Linked DNA regions of Homo sapiens: regions 2, 3 and 4 are each linked to region 1. The links come from fine-mapping of genetic effects on gene expression. A gene starts in region 1. Each other region holds a variant in brackets. All regions are shown on one strand. Distances are between the middles of the regions. Region 1 holds the start of TMEM132C (transmembrane protein 132C). Region 2 has its middle 72 kb from the start of SLC15A4. Region 3 overlaps TMEM132C (transmembrane protein 132C). Region 4 overlaps TMEM132C (transmembrane protein 132C).

Region 1 (5,148 bases):
AGGGAATTCTTCAATGGCCACTTTGCATCTAGGAAAACTGAATCCTAGAAACGCTGGAACCTAGAGCTAATTAACAGCAGAATTCAGGCACCAGATCGTGACTGTTGACTCTTTCAAATAAAATAGAAAAGTGCCCCCCTCTCCTACTCCTCCACCCCCGACTTGCCCCCCCTTTCCCTCGTCTCTCACCCCCTTTCCCCCCTCTCTCGCCCCACCCTCTCTTTCCCTCTTCTCTCACTCCTTCTTCCCCCCCCTCTCTCACCCCACCCTCCTCCCTACCTGGAGCTCTTGGAAGAAAGGAACACTTATATAAAACATAGCAAACTTGTCTGGTTGGTGTATCTGGGAAAGCGCAGCCTCAAGGAAAGTAGATTTTTCTGGATTTTCAGGCGGTGCAGAATGACTTTTGAAAAGCAAACGCTACTTTTAAACCTCCATTGACAACTTGTCTCTCTGAACGCATTTCTAGCTCAGCCTCAGAGCATTAGGCGGGAGAAGGGTGGCTTTGAGTGTTCTCTGCTCAGAGCCTGGGGCCGATACTGGACCCGCGGCGCCGCGCGAAGGCTCAGGGCACCCATGTGCGCACCTCCGTTTAACCAAATGAACCCGAGACCTTCGCCAGGGCGCGGGGAGCAGGAAAGCGACGCTCTCCTTTTTCTACGCCCTGGGCGCGCCCCGGGACTCGGGCAGCTGCTGCCCTGGCAGAGCCTAGGCCTTGCTCCCCGCCTGCCCCGCGGCTCCTGGGGCTGGAGACCGCCTCTCCCCGCCCTTCCCGCCGCCGCATCCGCGCGGCCACTCGGCCGCACACGCACATAATAAAAAAGGTCGGAAAAACCACACGGCTACCTTTCGTGAGCCCTGCGGGCGCCATACGTTAACTCCTTTAAATTCCTCCAACCCAAAGCAGGGCCGTCACTCCCATTGTAGAGAAGAGGACACTGAGGTGAAGGAGCCCCGGACAGGACCGCTGGTGAGGTAGTTCCCGTCGCGAGGGACGCACCCACCTCCCCATCCGCGCTCCCCCACCGCAAAGGACTCATTTGAGAGAACCCGCAGAGAGCCCCTGGTTTCTGCCAAGCTGGGGTCCCTGGTGAGCTGCGCGATGAGTGAGCGTTCCTCTAGGGCCCGCACAGAGACCCTAGCGGTTGCGGAAAGGGGATGCAAAGAACCGGGCCTTCCCTCCTGGAGCACCAGCCCCACAGTGCCGAAGCTGTGGATGGGGAGCTGTGGACAGGGAGCACACAGCCGGGAGGAAGGAGCGCACAGAGCGGAGCACCTCTCCTGGATGCCAGTTCCACAGGGTGACTGTGCTGGGGCTGGGGCAGGTCCGCACGGAACTCAGGGATGGGGAACAAACACCGTGTCCCTCAGCCACGCCCCCTCCTCATCCGCGGGGCAGCTCTGGGTCTGGGGGGTCCGGGGTGGGAGATTCGGGACTCGGGACCAGCCTAACTTGCCCGGATCCCGGCGCCCAGCTGGGAGCGCCCTTCTGGATTAGGGGCGGCTCGGCACCCGCAGAGGCGCTGTTGATGGGATCCGAGCCCCCGCCGAGGCCCCCGCCGCACCCCTCGCTTCGGCTGCCCTCACCCCGAGCTCCCCCGGAACCGGGAAGTTCGCATGCGTCGGCGCGCCAGGCACCCGCCCCGGCCTTACCTTTGCCCAGCAGCGCGCCCAGCAGCAGGCTCAGCGCCCCGCACAGCGGCGCCGCCGGCCCGGGGGCCGCACCCTCGGAGCGCATCCTGCGTCCCGGCCGCTCACGCAGCCCGCCGCCAGCCCGAAGCGCAGCGCCCGCCCGCGGCCCCCGCCGGCCGCCCCATGCCCGGGGCCACTCCCGCAGCCCGGTCGGCCGGGCCCGCTGCGTCTCTGCTGTCCGAGGCCCGCCCCTGCCGGGTCCACGCCGCCGCAGCTCCGGCTCTGGCTCTGGCGGCTCCGGCTCCGCCGCTGCTCGCGCTCCGGCCGGGACAACTTTTCTCCCGCAGCCTCCGCAGCCTCCGCAGCCGCCGGCCCGCCCCGCCCCCGGCCCCGCCCCCGCCCCCGCCCGGGCCCCGCCCCCGCCGAGCCCCGCGACCGCGGACAGATTGAGGGTGCGGTAGGAGAGAGTTCGCCTGCCCGCCGGGAGGGGCGGCAGATGGAGAACCCCCCCGCCCGGGCTAGGGAGGGTGTGCCCGGGAAAGAAGACCGGGAGAGGAGGGGGCGTCTCCCCAGGCGGCTGGGACGGCTCCTCCGGGGGTCCGCGCCTTTCCAGAGAAACTCAGCGTTCGCAGACTCCTGCCCGGGTGCCCAACGGACAGCGGCCCGTGGCCCGGAGGGTCCTGCCCAGGGACCCGACGCTCAAGGCGGAGCTGGACTCCTTCTCCCCACCCTCCCGTGGTCACTGCGGGACCTGGTGGTCGTCACGCCCCATTCCTCAACTTCAGGTGGCCGCTGCTTTAGCCTGGAGGGCTGGGGACATCTGGAATGCAAAGTCCCGCGCAGCTGCTGCGGGGAGAGCTCCTAACTGGATCACTGAGCGCGGAAAAGCAGCGCGCAGCGGAGCGTGAAGGCGGGGTGCGGGCTCAAGACAGATGCGGGTGTGCACCTGTGCGTGTGCGGAGGGGGCGAGGCACGAGATCACAGCGGTGTCTCTGGGAAGGGGACGAGAACGCAGAGGGGAAGAAAGGATCATTTTTCACTGCATGTCTGTGGGGCTTCCACTCCCCAATCATCTCCCCGCCGCCCATAGCATGTGTTTTATTATCTTTTCAGTGGGTGGAGAATAGCCCCTCTCTAGACTTGCTCCTGCAATAGGCAATTTCTCTGCAGACTCAGACAAGGAAGATCCGCCCTCCCCCCCCCCCCCCCGACTTCGTTCTCTCTATCTTTTCCCTCTGATTTCTCCAGGGCTGGCCTCCCTCATGGTGGTGATCCCAGGTGATCTCAGCGGCTTCCCTGTGCGGTTCCTGATGCTCATGCTCTGCTCTTTCTGCCACGCGTGGTCTGAGCAGTTTGAGGGCGGGACCCCGACTCCCCCCTTGTGACTGGGAATGAAGGGCCATGGGTTCGGAGGTCTCTGGACGTCCCCTCCTGTCCTGAGCTCCTCACCACGGGCTCAGCATCCCCTCTCACCGTGGGCTGGCTCGGTCCAACATCAAAAGGAAGCCTGAGGGGTCTTTTCTCACCATCAGTGCAGGAAAGAATTTCAAAAGAAAAAAAGAAGTCCTTGATTGAAAGAAAAGAAATGTAAACGAATGATCCCCAGCAACTGCAACCCCAAGTCTTATCTCCCAACTCAGCCCCTAAGGAATGAGCCAGGCATAAGGAGAAATTGGGGCGGGGTGGGGCGAAGGCTTTGCAGGGCACTGGCCAGAGTGGGAGGCTCTCTCCTGGGGTGGGGCCCGGAAGTCTGGGCCAGGCTGGGGGGAGATGTCTCCCTGGTTTTCTTGGCCGGCTCTACTCACATGATGTGAGGAGAAGGCAGCTTGAAAACTATCCAGGCCCCAAAGGGAACGGTAAAAGCTTGATTCTCATAGGCCTGGATAGCAGAGACTTGATTTTTAAAGTGGATTATGCTGATAATCGCCCAATTCTTCAGTACATTCAGCTAGTGTAGACCTGACCTTGGGGGCAGGGGGCAGTTGTAAAGTAGATTTGGGCTCCTAAAACGGAAGGTACGTTTTATTCTCAGTGCTTTGAGCCTGAACATCACCGGGGAATAATTTTTTTTTCATTTAAATGTTCCCAGCATGAGGGAGAAATACACATGTCCCATTGTTTGTAACTGAGGATGGGAATCTGCCTTATCCTCTCTCCTCCCTATTGGATAACAGGGACAAAAAATAAAAACCCAAAGAAGTGCCCTCCACTCCCCTGTTCTATGCAGCCTCATAATGTACCTTCTTTCCACATCATTTCTTTCCTTTTGGCACAGAACATTGCTGTCCCTACTGCAAAGACAAGTCAGGTCCTGGACTACATCTCTGTGATGCAAATAATCAAAACCAGGGGCTACCAAACAAGCCACAGCAAAATAAATACTAATTCAACATGGGGTTGGAGTGGGGAAAGGATTCTCAATCAGATAAGCTCACTGCACAGCACCCCAAAGGCAGCCACTGTCTTCAGGTGATCCTGAATCACAGATGCCCCTTGAGACTATGATGCCTCCGGGCATCCCCTGTGAGAGCCTTCAGGAGACCCAGCAAATGAAAGCTTCTCTGCAAACCTTCCTTTAGGACTCCATTTAATCTATTGCGTGTCCCTCTCAAGAGCAGTCAAACAAACATGCACACAAAACTGAACAAACAAATAAAACAGATGATATAGTCAATTTCTCTTTCATAGGTAAATCCACAAAAATTGAGGTTCATGGGCTAATAAAGTTTTCTGTATTTATTTTTTTTAAGTCATGTATCATTTAACCCCCAAATCATTAATTCCTTAACTTAGATTACTTCCAGATGGTTTTCTGAATTTCATAAGGAACATCAGAGGCTTCTAATCTCCTCAAAGGCTGTTGCAGAATTCCTTAAGGACTGTGGGCACATGGAAGCACTTAACATAATTTATGGGAGAGGAGAATGATTGGAAAGAGGAAACCTGCTGCTTCCACAGGGTTTCAGGGTTCCTAAGTCAATGAGGCAACTTCAGATTGTTTTGTTCATGCTTAAATGTTAAATTGTGAATATCGCATAAAATGAGGGGTGGAACTTGTGATTTTAGTTCAAAGGCTTCTTGCATTGTCTACCTGTAGACGGGACATATGGGTATATATTGCCGAGGACATGGAAAAGAAAGGCTATATGTTGGCCTCATGAAACAGCTATGGTCATCCCGCAAACTGAGTATCAAGTCCTGACTATGGTGCTTACTATTAGCGATTAAAAAATGAGGAAGAAGGAAAAAAGGGAGAAAAATGATAGAAAGGTCTATGCTTAGTTCTGTGTCCTGTCATTGTTCTTAAAACATATAGGCACTATCTGATTTAATCCTCTTCACACTCGTGGGGTGTATTATTATTATCCTTGGACATTTTATTCATTCATTCATTCATTTAACAAATAGGTGTCACTTGCTTACTATTTGTCAGGCCCAAATTTTGGGGTTTTGCCAGTGAACAAAATAGACGAGAGTCCTAAATTCATGGACCTTACATTCTAGTGGAGGATGCAG
Region 2 (5,148 bases), 490 kb before region 1:
CAACATCTTAATAAAGGTGTTGAAAAATAATCTACACCTCTTGTCTCAGAGCTGGCCTTGTGACTTGCTTTGTCCTAGAGGAGGGGGCAGAAGTGATGCTGTGTCTGTTCTGAGGCCTCCAGAAACCTTACACACCGCTGACATTTCTCAGACTCTGGGGGTTGTCATATGAACAAGCCCAGACTGGCCTGGGGACAATGACACATGGACCTAGTAACCCCATTTGCCCCAGCAGACAGCAAGTCACCCAGCAGGCATGTGAGTGAGCCCATCCTGGGTTACTCAGCCATCTCTCCAGATGACTGGACTGTGAGCAACCAGCCAAGATCCACCGAGCCACCCAACTGACCCATATTCTCAGGATCAATAATGAGCATGTGTTGCCGAGTCACTACACCTTGGGACAGCAGGTGACCCAGTGATAACTTACACAGCTACCATCCTAACTCTTGCTCAACAGCTTCATCCAGACATAACTCAGACATCACAGCTCATCTATTTCACCAATTCATCAATTTTAGAACCATTTTCATCACCCAAGAAGGAAGCTCAGTGCCTATGAACAGCCACTCCCTGTTTCTCCCTTCCCAGTCCCTGAAAACCATGAATCTACTTTCTGTCTCTCTGGATTTGCATGTCTTTGGCGGTTCATATAAATGGTGTCATTCAATATGTGGGTTTTTTTTTTTTTTTTTTTGGCGACTAGCTTCTTTCACTTAGTGTAATGCTTTCAAATTTCTTCCACATTGCAGCATAGCCTCATAACTTTTTATGGGTAGTATCAGTTATTTATTTGCTTCCTTATTCTCTATCTTTCTCTAGTAAAATTGAAGATCCATGACTTCAGGAGTTTGCTTGTTTTATTAATTGCAGCTTCTACCTTGCCTAGAACTGAACTTTGCACATAGAATGCTTCTCGAATGAATGAATGGGTGGATGAATGAATGAATGAATAGGAAAATCAGTTTGTTTCCCTCCTCCTATTAAAAACAATGTCGAATGACCAAAGAACCTGAACAGGCACTGAGTTAAAAGCTTGTCTGGGCCAGGGCATGTCTCGTTGCCACAGGGGGCAGGCCAGGGACTCAAATCCAGCTCAGTCCAGCTCCACCAGCTCTCTGCACTTTCATGAAGCCACGGGGACAACTGCTTCTTTCCCCAGCTTCACATATTTTGATTCCAGGCTTTTGCAAAGCAATGTTCTTTTTGCTGTTGCATACCAACAACAAAAAAATTCTTCTTTTTGCTTCTGGCAAAATTGACAAAATTGACAATGGAAGACAAAGGAAGTTTTCTTACTTGGTAAAGAAACTGGTTTTGCTTTAGGTGGGAAAGGTTTCCCCAGCTCCATTCCCTCTCGATGTGTGTTAACAGGGACGGGGGAGGCCTCACTCCCTACTGACTACCCGTGCATTTACTTTAATTCCAGGGTCCTGGGTGGGAATGAATTACAGGGTTATTTAAGCTTGTTTTGCCATAAGCCTTGACAAAGTCTTTCTTTTCACAAAAATGTCCTTCATTTTCAAAACTCTGTTTGGCAGTGGAGGGTGCAGCCTGTAATCCTTTTATGCTGTGGTGGTGTCTGTCCTCCACGTGACTAGAAACGTCTTTATTGGCAACATTTTGTCTGGGTAATGGGGGAAGAGAGAGAGACCCTGCCTCAAATCACCTGGATGAGACCCTGGTTGCAAGGGGTAGTCCTATCCAAACTAACGCTGAGGCCCTGGGCTTCGTGACAGCCCGTGGCACGTTCTCAGTTGTTTCTAGCATGTCTAGCAAACCTTTGGAGGTCAGAGCCTGTCTACTCAGGGGTGTTCACTTGGAGAAGGGCAAACACGTTGGGGAGAGTAATAATTTGCAGACCTCTGGAGAACCATTCGGTGCTCCAGAGCTGACACATCCCCCACGCTGTGACTCGCCAAGCCATTCTGTAATGGATGCACGTGGTGCACACCTATAAGAAGCATTTTCAGGCCTAGGGCCAAAAGAATATATCACAACGAAGAAAAATGGTGGCAAGATACATGGGCCAATAGCCGGTAATTCACCAGCGTTGAAATCATAGCCAGCCATTAAGGACTCTGTGAAGGAAGGAGAAGGGAATTCGAATTGTAGTGTGGTCTCTTAGCTAAGTGTCTCCGGGGCTGGCCCAGAGGTGTGAATGCCTTAAACCTCCCAGTAGCTTTGCCTGGTGGGTGGGACTCCTGTGGCCTAGCTGAGGACACTGAGATGAGGAAGAATTGGTGGAATTTAAAAAAAATACCTATTTCCATGTTTTCTTTGCATACAATACCTGCTTGCTGTAAAAACACAAACCATTAAAAATATATATATATCAAGTAGAAGCAAAGCCATTCCTCACCGCAGCCCACCAAGAGACAGCCACTGAGAGTTGCTTGTCATCTTCCTGGCACATATACATCAGTGTGTGTATAAAATGCATTATTGTTTTAACTCAAATGGGATTATAATCTTTATATTGTTATTCATCTAACTTGAAAAAAATCTTGGTATAACTAAATTTTTTACACCTACACAAAAGTAGAGAGAAGAGTATGATGATGTTCACCCACTGAGCTTTAACTCTTGTCAGTGTTCTGCCGAGCTACTTTTATCTGCCATATCTCACTTAAAAAATTTTTCTGTTTTGGAAATTGTTAGATACAAAGGTAGAGAGAAGTCTATCATGAGCTCTCCTGTGTTCCTCACTTAAGAACACAGTTTCAGCAGTTTTTATCATAGAGCCAACCCTAAACCCTTCCTGCTAAACCTCCACCCTTGGATTTTTTAAAAGGCAAATACAGGACGTGGCACAGTGGCTCACTATAATCCCTGTAGTCCCAGTGTTCTGGGAGGCTGAGGCATTCGAGACCAGCCTGGGCAACATAGCAAGACCCCATCTTCACAAAAGATAAATAAATTAGCTGGCGTGGTGGCATGCACTTGCAGTC[C/G]CAGCTACTTGGGAGGCTAAGGTGGGAGAATTGCTTGATCCTGGGAGTTTGAGGCTGCAGTGAGCTGTGATCATGCCACTGTACTCCAGCCTGAGTGACAGAGTGAGTCCCTGTCTCAAAAAAGAAAAAAAAAATCAAATCCTGTTTCACCCATAACTTTCTTTCTTTTTTTTTTTTTTTTGGCAACAGCTTTATTGAGATATAATTTATATATCACACATTTTACCCATTTAAAGTATACAATTCAATGGTTTTAAGCATATTCACAAAGCTATACAGTCATCACAATCAACGAACATTTCATCACCCTAGAAGGAAACCCCTTGCCCATTACCCCTTCCCCATTTCCCCTCTCCCAGCCCCTGGCAAGCGCTAATCTCCTGGATTTGCATATTCTTTATATTTTATATGAATGGAATTGTAAACTACGCAGCCTTTTGTGTCTGGCATCCCATATCTCACGTCTTCGAGGCTCATCCACATTGTGGCATGTACCAGTGCTTCATTTGTTTTTATGGCTGAGTCATGTTCTGTTGTATGGATACCCCACTTTTTGCTGATCCATTCATCAGTTGAAGGGCACTTGCGTTGTTTTCACTCTTTGGCTATTGTCAGTAATGCTGCTGTGAACTTTCGTGTACAGGCTTTTATGTGGATATATATTTTCATTTCCGTTGGGTTTATACCTAGGAGTGAAACTGCTGGGCCATATGGAAAACTTTTGAGGAACCGCTGGGCTGTTTTCCACAGCAGCAACAAACTGCATGTTACGTTTCCATTAAGCTGTGCGTGAGCATCCCAATTTCTCCAGATTCTCACCAACACTTGCTGGGATCTTTTAATTAATTTATTAATTATAGAGATGGTCTTACCATCTTGCCCAGGCTGGTCTCAAACTCCTGGGCTCAAGCGATCCTCTTGCCTTGGCATCCAAAAGTGCTGGGATTACAGGTGAGAGCCACCCCGCTGATATGTCTTTTCAAATAAAGTCATATTAGTGGGTATAACTTTCTTTTAAATTTATCGACTTATCATGGAAGTATTAATGGATCAGTATATATCCATATATACTCACATAGTCACCAGCTGCTTCCTAATCCATTATATGAATGTAGCATTCTGTCTTTATCCCTTTGGCTAAGCATTTACATCAGTCATTTCCCATTTTTCAGCATCACAAACAAGGTGACAATGAATTCCTAGACATCTACAGTTTTCTCAACCAGTGTTCCCAAGAGAATTACACTCTCTTGCCCTGAGCCATCCATTGTATGTAAGGAATGAACTTTTCTCCCAGGGGTCTAGAAAGGTGTTAGTTATGTAACCACCCTCGAGAGAATTGATAAAATAGTCTCTCAAGCCACTTTCTATGTTCCGTGATTCACGTGAGCACCCCTGGTTGGGAAGACTACATGTGTTCAAATACCATTTCATATTGTTAGAGTAGAATTGCGAGCTGAGGTTTTCCTTTGACATTTGGGGCTATTTCTAAATTGCCCTCCAAACTGGTCACATCCATTCACAGGACCACAGTGTCCAGCATATGCCTGGAATATTATCATGTTTTACATTTTAATTTTTTATATTTATATAAGTGGAGATGGTGTCTCACTATGTTGCCCAGGCTGGTCTTGAACTCCTCGCCTCAAGACATCTTCCTGCTTCAGCCTCCTAATGTGCTGGGATTACAGGCATGAACCACCACGCCTGGCCATGTTTTAATCTTTGGTAACCCTAGAAGCCCCAAATTATTTGTCATAATTTTTTCCCTCCCATCCTTAGCGCAATTGAAAATCTTGTCAAATGTTTAACAGCCACTAGAATTTCTGTATTTAAGAATTTGTGTTAGAATTGAACATAATTACTCTTTGGGGAAACATGCATTTCCAATACCTGGGTGTACTTCAACATTTAATTCAAGACTTTCCTGACAACTGTTGGGGGCTAATTTTGTCCACCTGGTAAAATACGGTACCAAAATGTGTCAGTAGACAGCAGGCAGGTCTCAATGGACTTTATTTGACAGCTTTAAATTTATGTGACTCCTGATACATTTTTGACTTTAAGGGATTATATTTTAAAAAGTTTTGCTGATAATTGATCCTCTCAACTTTCTTTTTGTATTCACATAATTCCAATTCATGTTACTTACAACCCAAACTCTAGCACTCTTAAAATAACCAGAGAGTTGTGGAGC
Region 3 (5,148 bases), 31 kb before region 1:
ACTTTCTTCACAGAAGAAAAAATGCAGGAAGCACAAGGACACACGGAAGAGACCCCTTTCTCTCTCCCATCATAATGCCTCCTTCAAATGAGAAAAACCATGAACTCTGCTTTTCAGGAAGGTCCCAGGCTCAAGGAGATAAGTTCATGAGGCTGGAACCTGAGCCAACACTCTGTAAGCTCTTCCACCTTCCTGTTGCCAGCAATAACCCCAGGAGGAAGAACAGAGGACTTCTCCCAGTCTTTCATCACAGCGGTTTCTCTTTTAAAGCCAGTAAAAAACTGCTTAGAGGACTTCAAAAGAAGCCCAATCCCAGGGAACAAAAAGTCACTGGAGCCACCCCGCAGACTTTGGCTTACGCTTATGGCTATCTCCTTAAAGCACCACCTGCTTTGATCATGGATTTGCCCAAACATGTTTACTCTTGCTCTTACCTGTCTTGAGTTTTGTATTTCTTATTGTGTCTAGTCTAGTATTGAACACTGGCCGACTGTGTCTAGACTACACTGACGGAATTATTTAAATGTGGGCATCCTGCCCCGGTTCCACTGGCACCTAACTCCTGGTCTCTTCCTGGTGTGGGATGTGGGATGTGCCTACCCAGCTCAGTGCTAACATCTTAGAGTTATGTGAACCCACCTGCAATCACGTGTAGGGGTGAGAGGTAGGGACCACATTTCATAGAGTGAAGACCTGGAGGAAAGGAAGAACCTGGGCTGCATGCAGCTTTAGAGACCCTCGGCAGCAGGATTTTCACAAACCTTTACCTTAAGGTGACCAAGCTATACACCCTTGCCTGATTCTCTCCAACCTTCTACCAAAGTTCTCTCTATACGAAAAACAATCTGGAATTGTTTTCAAATTTCAAATTTGATTTTCTCCCATTGCTTGAGAGGAAGACAACATCTATTCTCTCACATCTCTGTTTTACTCTGTGTGTTACTGTCTCGCTTGTCTCTGGTTCTCATCTGGGTCCTCTGAACTGGCACCATCAGCTCTGTCTTTCTAAGAGCATCTCAGTAGCCATGCCATCAATAGCTGGTGAATTCCGTGTACATTGCTTAACTCAAAATCTCATGGACCAGCTCATCTAATGAGACCAGCTCATCTTTTCAAAACCAGGCATCCAGGTATACATTAACCACCCAGGGATCAGGTGTTTCTTGTGGTTGACTCAAACATGGATTCAGTGTAGAAGATGGAAATTGCATGGTATGAAACATGGCTGCCTAACAATTAGGGCTCCAAGGCAGCACAGAGCCCCTGGGACAGTGAGTCTCATGACCAATATCTCTAGTACAATTTTGAGTTTTCAGAAAATTTATCACCTTCCAAGCTCCAGAGTGATGGTTAAAAGGTAAAGGTTGAACACAGGGCTCAGGGTCAGGATACATGGATTTTCATACTAATCCTACCGTAAGCCACCGTGAGGAAGTTATCACATTCATCCCACACACATGTGCTGTTGCTCTCAGCGTTAAATACCAACACTGTATGAAAAATCCAATACCACACTGGGGAAATGATAGTACATACAACCAAATAAAAGAGAAAAAACACCCCTGTTTTCATGGAACTTCAAGTTAAATGGGGACAACATGTATGAGCACATATCTGCAATCCAGGGAAATGCTGTGCAGGACAGGTACAAGGTGCTCTACCAGCGACCTTGGTCCACTCCCCACTGGGGAAAAACATTCCCCCAAAGAAGGCAGCTGAGGTCCTCAGCATGAGTAGATGTGGATCAAAGACAACTCCAGCCTCATCTGCAAAGTTCGTTTTCTTCCCCCAAAGAAATGTCTTCCTGTGAGGATACAGAGGTAGCAGGAGGGAGGCTCTGATGGCACAGTTTAGTGTCTTCAGAGCAGTGGCTGCAGGCAGTTACCCACAGGATGCAATGGCAAAGAATTATGCAGGCACCTGCCGATGCTGGTTTCCTGGCTGTGAGTCGTACGTACCGTAGTTACGTGAGATGCAATCACCAGGGAGAGCTGGGTGAAGGGGACTTGGGGCTCTCTGTACTATTTTATGCAACTTCCTGTGAGTCTCTATTTAAAAAAAAAAGTTAAAACAAATAAACAGACAAAAAAATCAACATAACAATTGCCCTGTAGGAAGAACATTTTGCGCTGTACCAGTTGCCCTTTCGGAAGGAACACATTCAACAAAACACAATGCACATGGCCCGGGGGAGGAGAGGGCGGGAGAA[C/T]CTGAGGCTGGAGAGCCTGGGGAGCTCCACCACAGAGGGTCATGGGTTAGTTTCTGGAACAATGGGAGCCGCACTGGGGTCTTAAGCAAGGGAATAACATGATTAGATGTGCATTCTCACAGGTGCTCTCTGGCAACATCCTGAACCTGTACTGGGCAGAAGGAGAGGAGATAAAATGGGATAAAAAGAGGAAAATGCTTTGTAACCTTTAAAGCTACATTCATAGCTAAAGGCGGGGTGAGATTACCCCACAGGCTGTCACACCAAACAAAAGCAAAACAGGGAAACTAACATGAAGGAGGGAATATTTTTGTAAATCATTTGATATTGAAGTCATCATCATGAGAAAACAAATATTTTGTTGGGTTTTCTTCCATTTGCTTTATGGCTAAGTACTATTTTAATTGTGAATTGTAGACAGGTTGAGCAGGGCCCCATAATTTATTTTCAGTGCTTGGGGTCTCTAAGGAGGTAAATGATTGGGTTTTAACTTTTTTTTGAAAAATTATAGAGTTTTTGCTTAAAATCATGTGGGTGTCAGAAGGAAAAAGTTCAGAAGAGATACCAAATCCTGGAAAAAGGAAAAGAACTGTGCCCACCAGGAGACACTGCTACACTCTCTGAAAAGATTTGGGGGTGAAGGGTCAGAATTAAAGTCAGACCTTCTCAGTTCAAGTCGAGTGCCTTCAAAGCCAGCTTTTGCAGGCCTTGGTTAAATGTTAACCCTAAGCAGGAGAGACTAAGTGGGAAAGATTCAACATCAGTTAAGGCAAGACAGTCACTATCCCAAGGAGGGCGAAGCTTATTAGAGACCCGGAGCCATGATAGCACCCGTAAATTACTTAGACGCATGACCAAGGAGTAATCCAATAATCCATTTATGACTTTAAATGAATCTGGCTGCACACTAAACCCCTTCTGAGTTTACAAACGTACAATATTCACAGCCACTGGCCTCCTATCGGCAGGAGGCCATCACGTCCAGCCCAACTTCTGCATGGTGTTCACAGCACAGAAAATTAACCAGAGCCAAGCAGTCAATACCATATTATCCCCTTCACTGCAGTTATTTATTCTATTTGTTGCTCTTCATTTCAAGCCAGCACCAACTGAAAAGATGGCCAGTCCAGCCCCTAAAAACAGACCCTTGCTGCTTTCTATTGAATCATGAAAGTTTAAAAAGGGGAAAACTTACATATGCACTTTGCAATTAAGAAAAAAAAAAGACCATTTGACGGAATTACAGCTGTATTTCCTACATCCATAAAAACCTGGGATTTATTTTGTCCAAAGATCACGGGGTGTGTTTTGGTGAAATATGCAGTTTGGGAAGTCTAGTCTAAATCTAGCAATTCCCAAAATGGTACAGAGATAAATATCTTTTATTTATATTATCATATATTTATTTTAATGCTGGTTAGAAGAAAACACTTATAGTATATCAAACCCTGATGTTTTAAAAATAGTTTTGCTAAATTAAAGAAATGCATCAATTTAAAGGAAAACATGAATTTCTTGCCTACTCTTGACTTTATTGCCCCATCTTCTTCCTCATGACACTCACAGTCATGAACCTGACGGAGGACAACTTCCATTCTCAGGTCCAAGTGTTGTTCTATCTATCCCTTTAAGGCGAATCCAGCTCCCTTTCTAGTGACTGGCTACAGAATGGCTCTGTGCTCTAAATATGACCAGAAAGACAGAGAGGAAAGACAGAGAGGAAATTAATGGCTGGGCTGGCCCTCCTTTGTTTTTGAGAGAAGCCTCTGTAAAGCTGGCCACTCCTTCTAGCCATAAACATATAAACTGTGTACCCTAAATACCAGTGTCATCTCTCCTGTGACCATGAGAACAACCAGTCTTGGGGTGAAGCCAGGATGTCATTAGAGAGACAGAAAGACTTTGATCATTAAGGGGAGCAATAAGCCACTGCATCAATTAACCTGGAAACCACCCTACTTCTGGAGTTGCTTTTTAAGATAATATGTTTCCTTACCATTTAAGGCAGACTGTATTCGTGTTGTTATTACTTGCAGCCCAAAGCATCCTAATTATAAAACGTGAACCTCCAATGATTGGGAAACTCAGGTCTCAATGCTGGATAGGCCCTGAGTCCTGTCTCCTGGGTTCAGGCATCAGGCCAAAAGCTTTGCATCTCAAATCAACAAATACTCTCAAAACAAGGGTGCTACTTCAGTAAATATAGGGGACAAAGAGAGACAAAGGGACTTGGACACTAGGAAGAAAGGGAGGCAAGGGGAGGTACAGAGAAAACCAATGTTCACTCATTCTTGCAAGATGCATTTCACTGCTTATTATGTGTTGAATATCCCATTACAACCTGAAGATATGGAAGGTAATAAGGAAAGGCCCATGTCTTCAAGAAATGACAGAGCAGAGAGAAAGACAGAGGAATGTACAACTAAATATGGTCTGAAAAGTACAATATTCTACAAGGATCAAGAAGGAAATAGGAGAAATTTTTAAGGTTTTTTTTTTTTAATTGGTGCTTAAAACTGAAATCTATGACTGGACTGGTCTCTGATCACTGAGCAGAATTTTATGTGGGGCTCTTATTTTTCTTCTTTCTTCAGGTTGTACCCCACCCTTTTTTCTTTCTTTTTTTTTTTTTTTTTGAAGGACTTAAAAGGCACATCAGTAACATTGGAGGGCAAGTCTAAGAAGTCGGGTAAGGAATGAAAGCATACCCAGGGGAGGGGGTGGAAGGTAGCAGGCTGTTACAGACAGGACGCCCTGGACATCACAGTTTCAAGGCGGTCATTATTTATTTTCCATGTGACCCTACACGTCTCAGTTTTCTCATCTGTAAAATGGGGATGGAACTGCCTTCCCCTCAAGTAGGTCTGAGGCTGAGAGGGAATGATGCTGATGAAAGGTCTTAGTGAATAGCTATAGCTATACCAAATATTTATTTTGGG
Region 4 (5,148 bases), 440 kb before region 1:
GCCTGTGCGCTCATGGTGCTGGCCCTTCTGCCGGCGGTCGCTGGCGTGGTTCTTGATCTCATCTTCCTCATAGTCCCCGCCGGGGCTGGAGTCAGCATCGTTCTGTCCGAACTTGACCCTGACGTTGCCGACGCCCACAGCCAGGATGCTCTTGCGTTTAGATTTCTGGCAGGCCTCGGCGATCGTCATGTCCACTCGGATCAGTGGGCCCTGGCCTTCCCCTTCGGCCACCACAACGGGCCACCTGGGAGAGCGGGGCTGGGGGACTGACACGACAGCCTCGTCCTGGGAGGTGGCTGCCAGGGAGAAGTCCTTGGTGTCGTAGATGTCCAGGGGCGTCACAGAGCCATCACTGAACTGCAGCCACGTGCTGAATACAGCCTCCTGCAGGGACACAGGCAGTTAGAAGACCACCTGGGGGATGCCTTTTCCCTTAGAAACCCCCTCCTAGGAGGACGCCCAATGAAACAGGGAGCAGGACCTCAAATCCAGACCCAGTAGCTCATGCATCTGGGGAGAAATCATACAGGTTTTCTATCAGGGGCAGAGAAACCACCTTAATTTAAACAAGAACAAATGGGGATGTGACTAACAGTGCCCTCATAATCCTTACCCAGAACAAACAAATGGCAAAACAAAAATCCCTAAGTGAGATGAGGCTCCGGGTGGCTTTATCCACACAGGTATTGCTTGAATCAGTCAGCCGGTGCATGTTCACAGACAATGACTGGCTTCTAGGGCAGGCCCTGGTCATTTTGTCACACACTCTGTGATTAGTGGCCTAAGTATGATGAATGGATACAGCTGTTGTCTGTATCCAGCCTGATGACAAAGGTTGATGGGCAGGAAACACTGTCAGAACCAATGACATCAGAAAGGAACCTCCCCTCTTCTCCCTGCACTGCCCCCAGTGAATTAAGCTTTGCCTGAGAAACAAGAAAACAAGAGCATTTTGCCCTTTAAGGTTGACCCTGTTGAGCCATTGCAGATGCTTTGCTTGGCTGTAGTTGGGCGGCAGTGATGTGTGGGACACAGTACATGGCATTGGCTGGTGGGCCCGGTTCAATTGTGCTGCCCTTGCTCTGCATGGGTAGCAGAGTGAAAGAGGAAGCAAAGGGCCAGTGTGAAGGGGCTGAGTTTATTTTGCAGACTCACTATACTTCTGTCAGTGACCCAACAGCTATGTAAAAACTATTTGCCATTGTGGGGACTGGTAAAAAAAAATTGACTTTATGTGCCTGGCTTATTTTACTCAAAGTAATGTCTTCCAGGATCATCCATGTTGCTGCAAATGGCAATATTTCATTCTTTTTATGGCTGAATAATATTCCAAAAAAAGGGGAAGCTACTGGCCTAGAAATGCCACTCACACCCATGCCTATGTGACTGGCAGATTCTCATGAGCACAAGGTTTCCTGCTGTCTCGCCTCCTCCCCAGGGCAATAATGACATCCTCTCCCCTTTGTGTGCCCACAGCAAACATAATCCCACAGAAGGCCTTATTCTTGACTTAGCCATGGGTACTTCTATTCTGCTTCCAAGAGTGGGAACTCCCATGAATAGAGGAGGGTGAAATGTGCAATCCTAATCATAAAACAGACAGTCCATATCCACTGGGCACTCGCTGTGGGTCAGGTGTTGTTCGCAGTTATTACAGAACGCATTTTCTCCTCTTCCACAAAGTAGGTTGGGTTATGCTTCCTGCCCAAAGAGAGGTTAAGAACTGTGCTCACATGCACGCATATGTTCATCGCAGCACTATTCACAATAGCAAAGACATGGAGTCACAATAGCGAAGACACAAAGTCAACCTAAATGGCACCTGATCCACAGCAAGTGCCCAGTGGATACAGGCTCTCCACTTTGTGCTTAGAATTGCATATTTCAGCCTCCTCCATTCATCTAGGAAAAACTCTCCAGACCATTAATGATAAACTGGATAAAGAAAATGTGGTACACACACACCGTGGAATACTATGCAGCCATAAAAAGAACAAGATCCCATCCTTTGCAGGGACCAGATGGAGCTAGAGGCCATTATTCTTAGCAAACTGACACAGAAACAGAAAACCCAACACTACATGTTCTCACTTCTAAGTGGGAGCTAAATGATGAGAACACATGGACAGATAGAGGGGAACAGCACACACTGGGGCCTATTGGAGGGTGGAGGGTGGGACCAGGGAGAGGATCAAGAATAATAACTAATGGGTACTAGGCTTAATACCTGGGTCATGAAATAATCTGTACAACCAACCCCCATGACACAAGTGTAGCTACATGACAAACCTGCACAGGTACCCCTGAAGTGAAAATAAAAGTTAAAAAAATAAAAAAAAGAAATATGTCCAGTCATATCGTTAGGAAGAGGCAGGATCAGGGCTGGAACTGCTGTGGCTTTAGAGCTGAGCTCTTGACCACTGTGCTAGGGACCCCCTAGAACAACCACTGCCAGAGCCCATTTTATCAGCCCCACAAAGACCATGATGACTCACCCTCTGCTGAAAAAGTCAAGTAGCTGCCTCCTTTCCTCCCTGCCTTTTTCACAGCAAACCAGGTCTGACCTCGTGGCCTTCCTGGACCTTTGTCCCCATCCATCCCGGACACTGTCATTGCAGCCCAGGGAGGTAGCAGCACCCACTCCATGGACGGGGCATGGGAAAATCCTACCTGCTGAGCCAGAGATACAGCAGCAAAGCTTGTGTGCGCTCTGAGCACTGGATGGAGATGTCGCCACTCAAAACCAAAAGCCCACACTTGGGTGGGATAACTACCTCTGTGGTATGCGAATTGGGAGAAAAGAAACTCACTTGAAGTTGGACCTGTGCAAATGCAAATACAACCTCCTTCAGAACAAAACAAAGCC[G/A]AGCAACCAGGGCTCAAGAGGTGCTCATGATACAAAGAAAGAAAAGTTACAACCTGTAGGTGGCAAGGCTGCACCGGGAGTGGTTGTGTTAAACATTTACACAGGAAGGTGAGCAGACTGATATGTGAGATCATAGAAGACTCCAAAGGCTATAACTTAAAGGAAACCAACAAAAAACAACAGTCTATGAAATAAAACAATAAATAATGTTATTTATGAAATAATAACATTTCATAATAATACATTTCATAATAAATAAATTTCATAATAAATGTTATTTATGAAATAACATAAAACGAACCAACAAAAATAGTCTATGAAATAAAATTAAAAAGAAATTAAAAATTTAATTAAAAAATTAAAGAGACATTAAAAGGAGTTGAAATTGTCTCAATAACAGCAAATGGGGGCCAGATGTGGTGGCTTATGCCTGTAATCCCAGCACTTTGGGAGGCCGAGGTGGGCGGATCACCTGAGGTCAGGAGTTCAAGACCAGCCTGGCCAACATGAGGAAACCCCATCTCTACAAAAAATACAAAAATTAGCAGAGCATGGTGGTGGGTGCCTGTAGTCCTAGCTACTCAGGAGGCTGAGGCAGGAGAATTGCTTGAACCTGGGAGGAAGAGGTTGCAGTGAGCCAAGATCACACCACTGCACTCCAGCTGGGGTGACAGAGCAAGACTCTGTCTCAAAAAAAAAAAAAAAAAAGAAGAAGAAGCGAATGGAAGCAGAGCAGGAAGGGGTGCAAAGAGCCACGTAGAATTTCTAGAAATGAAAAACACAGTCACTGAAATCAGTGACTCAATGGGTGGTTCGAACAGCAGATGAGACATGTTCAAGGAGAGAATTACTGCAGTGGGAGACAAAGCCACCCACGTTACCCCAAATAGAACCACAGGCATATCAAGAAATAAAACTGTGAAGGGCAGGTGAACAGACATAAAGGAGAGAATGAGAATGTCCAACGCTTGTTTGGTAGGAATTCCAGAAGGAAAAATTGGAGTAGCCTGGGAGCAGCCAGTGTTCACAGCAATGATGACTCTACATCCCGCAGGACCAAGGAAGAATGCTAGCAATTAAAAAAAGAATTCTGATGACATCGTTTGAGCATCTACATGTAGCTGTAGCTGAAGATCCAAATGCTTGGACATGAACTGATACATTCTGCTGTGTGTGAAGGCAGGTTGAGTTGGATTGGGTCATATCACTTGTGTTGGTAAGCCCTGGCCAACACCAGCTGGCTCTGAGGGGTGAGCCTGTGTAGGAAGTTTTAGGAGGGTGTGGAGTTCTCTTTGGGTGGCTGCCCATTCAGCTCCTGCTAGCTCAACTTTCAATGATCAACTTTGCTTTTTTTTTTTTTTAACTTATTTTTTGCCCAAGGTCACTCTCTGGCTTCTGGAATCCATGTGGTTGTGCCTACAGCAAGATGTGCCAAGGAGTTAATAAATGCTGTGGGCAGCCCTCAATGAAGGACTCATGGAAGTTGTTATATTTATCCCAGATCCCTTGCCCCTCAAGTGCAGTAACTCTTCTGGCCTTTCTAGACCGGCATACAGTCGCCCAGCAGACAGGAGCTCCGGCTGCCCTTGGCGGCGGCTGAGTTGGTAATACACTCTACTGGTTGCATTTCTCTTCCTTCCATCACCCCCGACTTCTCTACTGGTATTGTCTTCACCACCTGAATAAACTACTTGCACCTGAATCCTTGTCTCAGGCTCAGCTTCTGAGCAGACCAAAACTAAGACAGAAGAGATGGCTCAGCGATGTTGGTGCTCACCCTCGTCTCCTCTGTCCATATCAGCTGATGAATCACACAATCCAATAAGTCCTTCTAATGCCTCAACCTCATGCACAAATACCAAGTGATTTCTCCTTTCATTTTTCGATCCTACTTTCTTTAGAGCAAACAAGGCTTGGGAGAACATGCAGGCTACTACCCTCTATTTGTAGGTGTAAAAACCATTCAGATTTTCTATTTCAAAGTTGAAAATATCATGAACAAGGTGCCAGCCTTCTACACTCTAAGGGGTGAGATAAAAGACTGAACAGTGTGCAAGTTCATCGTGGCTGACATTTCCTCTTGAATAATTTTTCTTCACAAACTAGATGGGGAAAGAAGTTAACATAAAAAAGCCCCTGAACAGCAGACAATCGGAATTAAAGCCTCAGAACACCGTTGACTTGCCAAGATCCATCTCCATCAGCCCTGCTGCATGATTGAGACTAACTTCTACCATAAGCTCATTACAGAGAGGCTGGAATGTAGTGTTTCATCAGGAGAA

The links. PIP is the estimated chance that this variant, and not a neighbour inherited with it, causes the effect.
Region 2: its variant is fine-mapped to the expression of TMEM132C in whole blood (TOPMed, PIP 0.95).
Region 3: its variant is fine-mapped to the expression of TMEM132C in tibial nerve (GTEx, PIP above 0.99).
Region 4: its variant is fine-mapped to the expression of TMEM132C in whole blood (TOPMed, PIP above 0.99).

Annotation. Positions count from the first base shown.
Region 1 is chr12:128,263,993-128,269,140 of GRCh38, reverse strand. TMEM132C (transmembrane protein 132C) reads right to left here and starts at 1,971. Exons shown (of 9, transcript NM_001136103.3): 1 at 1,654-1,971. The coding sequence starts at 1,738. LOC107987176 (a long non-coding RNA gene) reads left to right here and starts at 2,109. Exons shown (of 2, transcript XR_001749176.1): 1 at 2,109-2,570. RefSeq lists enhancers at 930-1,768, 2,304-2,825.
Region 2 is chr12:128,749,597-128,754,744 of GRCh38, reverse strand. No RefSeq gene overlaps it. Among named protein-coding and RNA genes, the nearest start is that of SLC15A4, 72 kb to the left of the region's middle. RefSeq lists an enhancer at 1-879. The variant C/G (reference allele first, on the strand shown) is at 2,952.
Region 3 is chr12:128,295,336-128,300,483 of GRCh38, reverse strand. The region is part of intron 1 of TMEM132C (transmembrane protein 132C); the gene reads right to left. Among named protein-coding and RNA genes, the nearest start is that of MIR3612, 3.8 kb to the right of the region's middle. The variant C/T (reference allele first, on the strand shown) is at 2,210.
Region 4 is chr12:128,700,326-128,705,473 of GRCh38, reverse strand. TMEM132C (transmembrane protein 132C) reads right to left here. Exons shown (of 9, transcript NM_001136103.3): 9 at 1-384. Among named protein-coding and RNA genes, the nearest start is that of SLC15A4, 120 kb to the left of the region's middle. The variant G/A (reference allele first, on the strand shown) is at 2,867.